2 separate regions of the Homo sapiens genome follow, and region 2 is reported to be linked to region 1. The links are microRNA targets in miRTarBase. Many come from high-throughput screens and were not tested one by one. Region 1 holds a microRNA gene; the other region holds the end of a gene's coding sequence.

Region 1 (3,410 bases):
GTACCTACAGTATAACATGCCATCACCGCCCAGAGAAGGAAAGCAACTAGTGCACTCGTCACGTCATGTTGTAAGTAGTACTTGCTTACATTATGTCCCTCCCTGACAATCCCTTCCAACCTCTGTCAACCTCCTTCCCCACAATCACACACACAAAACCACACAACCAGGAAGGGAAGCCATGGAGCGAGTACTGTGAATCCTAAAAGCGGCTCTGTAATTTAAAAGTGCAATGGCTGTACCTGAAGAAAATTTGTCTTTAGCTTCATCAGGTGAAGAAAATTGGTTTTATAACACAAGGCCCACCAAACCAGAAAAGCCCAGGAACGCTTCTCCACAGGACTCACTTAGCACGAGAAATCACTCTGAGCAAACTGACACACACAGTATTTCTCAAATTTTTCTTTTTCATTTAGCAGATGGTAAAGGAATACAACTGAAGTTAACAATAAATGACACTCTGGCCATTTTGCTCCACTATGAATGACAGACATTTAAGCTAGTTCCATCTGGGGAACTGAAACAGAATCATGTTCATATAATAAGCCACACAAACCAAATTAAGTGTAATATGTGCACCCAAACTTGACAAAACTTGTACTTAATGCAGCCTGCAAATCCCCAAGAGTCCACGACAGAATACAAGAATAGTAACAATGATTTATCTCAACTGATCTTAGCTTCTTCACAAACTTGCCAATAATGACCTTTCAAGAACTGCACCGTTTGTCCTCATCTGCGCAATCCAACAGTTCAGAAAAACTGAAGAAAATGCTTCTTCTAAAAATAAAACACTTGTTGTGGGGGGGACTACTAACAAAAAAAAAGGCACACTGGTTTTTACTGTACTGAAGCAATAAACTCTCCAAATAACTTCATTAAGGAGTGTCATTAGCAAAGAATGAACACCAAAATACCGCTCAATCCAATTTTCATTGTGAATTCCGGGATCTAGAAAATTAAATGGGACGGTATCACTCTGCTATAAGAACTATTTCCAAAACAAAACAAACCTATCTACCCCCTTTCTTGATTTTTTTTTAAAAAGTTTTAGGGTTTTTCCTTTTTTCAACTTCACATACTTCGTGGCTTTGCAAAAAAAAAAAAAAAAAAAAAGCAGTAAACCGTATTTACCAAAAAAAAAAAAAAAAGTTTTGTTTGGTATCAAAGTATAGCTGCAAGCTGAGCCGGCTGGCTGCACGGGTCCCAGAGCGCGTGGGGACCGCACGGGTCTCCTGGGCCGCTCGCCTGCGACCCGCGCGGGTCAGCTGGGCCGCACCCCCGAGAAGCCGCGGAGAGGCACCGACAGGCAGGCGCGGCCCGACGTGTTTACCGTCCGCGTCGACCCCGGGGAGCCGCTCCCTCGCGCCCGCAGCACTTGTTCACGGCGCGGACTCCACGGCGGGGACTCCACACCGCGGCCGCCCGCCCCAGGGGAGGAGTGAGCCCGCCCCGGCGGCGCCGACCCGGGGACCCGGGGCAAGGATTCGGGGCCTCGCTGGGGGCGGAGCGCCTGAGGTAGCATCGGCGGCCGGGCGCGCCCCCCACCCGGAAAGCGGCGACGGCCTCTAAGTTGGGCTGCGGAGTGGGAGGCGCGCCGAGCCCCAAGCAGACAATGCGGGAGAAGGGCGATGCGCAGGGAGGAGGGGTCCGCAGACCTGAGGTCCCGGCGCCGCCCGGCGACCCGTCTGTCCAGCCCGCCCCCGAAACCCCCGCAGCCCCCGCCCCTCCTCCGGGGCCCGCCCCACCGAGCAACCGCAGGGGACTGGCCGCGCTCCGCGCCCCGACCCACAAATCACAAAACTTCCCCCAACTCCGCCAACTAAGTTGCGCTCTCACCGTGCGGCTCCCGGGGCTCCCCCGCGGGCCGAGCTGGGACAACTCTTCACCTTCGCCGCGGAGAAAGACAATAGGCGGCCGCTCCCCCGGAGGCGGCTAAAGCGGCGGCGACCGAGGCGAGCAATGGGCACGGCAGTCTCGGCAGAGCACAGGCGCTTCACCGCGGCTGCTCGGGCTCCGCGCTGGCCCTGCACACAGCTCCAGTCCGCGCATGCGCCGAAAGACGCTCGGGAGGGTGGGCGGGGCACGCGGGAAGGCGGTAACGCCTGCGAGTCCTCCCGTGAGTACACGCGGAGCAAGAACTGCGAGCTGGGATTGCACGGCAGAACTGCCCATCTCGCTGCATGAGACCAATAGTAAGGCTCCTGGACGGGGCACTCAGGTTGCTAAGGGAGGCTGAGGTTGACCGCCGCTGCTGCTCGGCGGCAAAGTGATCAAAGTAGGGTGGCTGGCAGAGGCTGCTCTGGGAAATGCCCACCCACGGTCTCCTCTCCGCCCTGTCTCCAGAAACCGCCCTTCCTCTGTGTACTGGTGGTTACCTGAGCTGCAGCACTTAACCACACATCGTGAAATGATTTACTCCTCTATTTCCCCCACTTCAACTCAGGAAGTGGGGTTTAGTCTTCTGTGTCCACAGCCTAGGACCGTCTAAGGTATTAGGTATTAAATATAGGTATTAAACAAGTGTTGGATGGATGCACGGCGCTATGGCGGAATCACAATTGTGACAGTGCATTCCGTGAACTTCTGGCTACTCGATCACCACAAAGTCATTCCGTGTTCGAGCTGCAAAGGACCTCAAAAATCATCTGGTTGCTTTGGGAAACAAAATGTGGTCCGTGTACCAATGGTGCCGGTAACCACCGGCCCACAGAGGAAGGGCGGTTTCTGGAGACAGGGCGGAGAATATATTAGTTGGTACACGAAGAAACTTCTTTTTTCAAATAGTTAAGTGTTTTTAGTGCGCATTAGGAGGGAAATGCCTATCACGTCAAACCACTGTTTCATTAATGTTATTTCTTAGGTCAAATAAAAAGTGGCAAAAAACGAAAGCACTTCAAGAAAAGTGTTAAGTAAAAAACTGAGACAATTTATATGCAGTTGAAGAACGTGTAAAACTAGTTGATAGTGATTGAAGTAAGAACAGCGGTTAGGTAGGAGGAGAAGATTATTGGCTGGGAAGGAGGAGGAGGGAACCCTCTGGGGTGCTGGTTCTGTATTTTGACCTGGGTGATAGATAACAAAAGTATATACATGAATAAAAAATACATCCAGTGCACTTTAGTGCACTTTGCACATTTTAAACATGTATTTTTAATGTCAGTTTTCAAAAATCTGGTACAGGATATTACCCCCCCGCCCCCAAAAGAAAAGCAAAGATGCAAATGACTGCCATTTGGGAAACACTGATCCAGGCGGCTCACTAGCAGTGACCAAACACCTGAGAAAGGGTATTGTGAATACCTGATGTGTGTGCCAGGAACTTCCATTGTTGAATAGCTCCAAATCTCAGAAATGCTCCTAATGTTGAGCTCTGGTGCTCACATATATTTTCTCTTTTTTTCTTTTTT
Region 2 (3,410 bases), not on the chromosome of region 1:
GTCATTTTGTCTAAGTTCATCAAGTCTTGTGGTCACAGGATTATATCTTTAGAATGCTGGTGAGCAGCCATGCTAACGAAAGCCCCCTTTGGCTAGGAGTTTAGTACTGGGAGGGGTACTGGGAGAGGATAATATAAAGTGATTATTTCCCTTGTCTTTGCTCATCTGCACCTAAATCATGAGGATCTATGGATATGCACCTCATCAGAAGAGTGCACATAACAGCAGCAAGAGAAAAAGCAGCACAGAAAACACAAGGTCACTATGCTTTCCTACACAACAATCACTTGTCAGGCAACTGTCTGAGATACCTAATTCTCCCCAGAGTGGATGTCTCCTTGTACACGCATATGTGTGACACACACACACACACAGATATAAGTTGGCTCCGTGTCCCCACCCAAATCTCACCTTGACTTGTAATAATTCCCACGTGTCAAGGGCAAGACCAGGTGGAGGTAACTGAATCATGGGGACGGTTTCCCCCGTGCTGTTCTCATGATAATGAGTGAGTCTCATGAGATCTGATGGTTTTATAAGAATCTGGCATTTTCCCTGCTTGTACTTCTCCTTCCTGCCACCTTGTGAATTTGTGAAGATGCCTTGCTTCCCCTTCACCTTCTGCCAGGACTGTAAGTTTCCTGAGGCCTCCCTACCATGCTGAACTGGGAGTCAATTAAATCTCTTTCCTTTGTAAATTGCCCAGTCTCAGGAATTTCTTCATAGCAGTTCAAGAATGAACTAATAAACTACATATATATGAAATAACACTATATAGTATATAGCACTATAAACTATGCTAGGGTACTCAAATTTCTTTCAATATAGATGCAAAATGTCTCAAAAGATGCTACAAAACTGAATTTACCAATATATAAGAAGACTTACACTTCATTACCAAGAGAGATTTAACCCCCCAAAAAAGCAATGTTGTTTTTGCATCTAAAAGTCAATTTGGCTGGGCACAGTGGCTCACATCTGTAATCCCAACACTTTGAGAGGGCAAGGCAGGAGAATCACTTGAGCCCAGGAGTTTGAGACCAGCCTGGGTGACAAAGTTAGACCCAATTTCTTATTTTAGAAAGTCAATTAATGTGATATACCATGTTAACAGAATAAATTTGAAAAACCACAAGATCATTCCAATAGATGCACAAAAACCATGAGAAAAACTTCAACAACACTTGACAATGAAATATTCAATAATAATGAACAGCAGGAAACTTTCTCAACCTGCTTTAAGGAATTTATTTTAAAAACCCTCAGCTAACATCATACATGATGATAAGACTGGATGCTTTCTTTCTCAGATTAGACACAAGACACTGTTCGATCACAGGTCTCTCTCCTTAAACCAATGTTACCTATGCAAATAGCCAAAAATAATGACAATGTAAAGAACAACAGATGAAAATAATAATTCACGTGAGAATATACTCTATAATAAACTTTACATACTTACAAATTGACAGCAACTCTATTAGCAAAGAAAATAGACTCATTTATCAATGGCCAATTAATAACAAAATAATTAAACTACACAGAAGTTAAACCTACAAATACATTTCACACATCTACTGTGTAACCCACAAAATTTTTAAAAAATTTTAAAAATATTTTATACTTTAAATATTTAAAAAATATTTTTTAAAATGGCTATGCAAGAAAAAAGGAAAAGAAATACATTTCAATTTACCCATATAACCAACACACTTTAAAATGGGTAGAAAAAGGAAATTTATTTACCAGCTTAAAAAAGAAGAATACATATTTAACTCTTGTACTACTGCTTGAAGAATACTTACAGAAGTCTTGCCTCAGCTGGGCGTGGTGGCTCACGCCTGTAATCCCAGCACTTTGGGAGGCTGAAGCGGGCGGATCACGAGGTCAGGAGATTGAGACCATCCTGGCTAACACGGTGAAACCCCATCTCTACTAAAAATACAAAAAATTAGCTGGGCATGGTGGCAGGCACCTGTAGTCCCAGCTACTCAGGAGGCTGAGGCAGGAGAATGGCGTGAACCTGGGAGGCAGAGCTTACAGTGAACTGAGATTGTGCCACTGCACACCAGCCTGGGCGACAAAGTGAGACTCCATCTCAAAAAAAAAAAAAAAAGTCTCACCTCAATTTTTTTTTTTTCAAAAGAAGTGAAAATCTATATTCTAGAGACTCTCTTCAAAAATGAGCAACCAATATATTCAATTTATTTATAGCTCCTAAAACATCTCATTCACATAGTGAATTTTCTTGAGAATTGTACTATAATTATTTTCCATAAGGTTTTCCATAATATTTACATTTACAGGATTTATTTCCAGTGGGAGTTTTCACATGACCTTTAAAGTAATTGTTAAAATTCAGAATTTTCTGTATTTCTAGGATTTCAATCTGGTGGGCATTCTTTTATTTATAAGGTCAATCTGGAGTATGTGTTACCATGTGTCTCTGAGTGAGTTATAGGATAAATGAAGGCATTCTCACATTCGATACCTTCATAAAGTTTTTCTCTAGAATGAGTTATGTTATACCATCAAATACCACTGGAACAACTGCAGGCCTTACCACATTTTAAACATTCATATGGATTTTCTTCAGTGAGTCCTTTCAAGTTTTCAAAAAGAAATGGAAAAATTGAATGCTTTACCTTATTGCTTATAGTCATAGGGTTTATCTCCAGTTTGATTCGTTTCATGTATTTGAGGAAATCTGGGAAAATTAAGTACTTTCCTACACCTTACATTCACAGTTTCTCTCAAGTATGTGACTGTTCATGTTTTTGACAAAAACTGTAGTGATTAAAGCCTTTACATTTTTTTACATTTATAGGGCTTTTCTCCAGTATGAGTTTTTTTATGCTTCCAAAGGGTACTAGCACGACTAAAGGCTTTGCCACATTTCTGACATTCATAGGGTTTCTCTCCAGTATGAGTCCTTTCATGGTCACGAAGGGAACTGGAACATCTGAAGCCTTTACCACAATTGTTACATACATAGGGTTTCTGTGCAATATGAGTTTTCTCGTGTTTCTGAAGGGAACTGGCGTATCTGAAGGCTTTCCCACATTGCTTACATGGATAGGGTTCTTCACCAGCATGAGCCTTTATATGTCCTTGCAAGGAACTGAGACAACTGAAAGCTTTGCCACATTCCATGCACACATAAGGTTTCTCTCCAGTGTGAGTTCTTTCATGGTAATGAAGGCAATTGGAGTAACGGAAGGCTTTCCCACAGTGCTTACATTCATAGGGTTTCTCTCCAGTATGAGTTCTTTCATGGTCACGAAGGTGACTGGAACGACTGAAGGCTTTCCCACATTGCTTACATTCATAGCGTTTTTCTCCAGTGTGAATCCTTTTATGTCTATTAAGAGAACGGGAAAAACCTAAGGCTTTCCCACATTCCATACATT

What was found. Region 1 holds the annotated microRNA hsa-miR-7706 (UGAAGCGCCUGUGCUCUGCCGAGA, at 1,976-1,999, opposite strand). A microRNA usually pairs through its seed, bases 2 to 8, with sites in the 3' UTR of a target mRNA and lowers its output. Matches are read on the target gene's strand: a 7mer-m8 pairs with bases 2 to 8, a 7mer-A1 pairs with bases 2 to 7 and ends in A, and an 8mer does both.
Region 2: the mRNA of ZNF124 is a reported target of hsa-miR-7706. Seed matches in the 3' UTR shown: 7mer-A1 at 1,867-1,873.

What each region holds. Positions count from the first base shown.
Region 1 is chr15:85,379,228-85,382,637 of GRCh38, reverse strand. MIR7706 (microRNA 7706) reads right to left here and starts at 2,042; the gene lies at 1,976-2,042. It overlaps AKAP13 (A-kinase anchoring protein 13), which reads right to left and starts at 2,035. Exons shown (of 37, transcript NM_007200.5): 1 at 1,840-2,035. RefSeq lists silencers at 1,331-1,498, 1,155-1,724, 2,105-2,184.
Region 2 is chr1:247,153,761-247,157,170 of GRCh38, forward strand. It overlaps ZNF124 (zinc finger protein 124), which reads right to left. Exons shown (of 4, transcript NM_001297568.2): 4 at 1,229-3,410. The coding sequence ends at 2,806. Among named protein-coding and RNA genes, the nearest start is that of ZNF124, 17 kb to the right of the region's middle.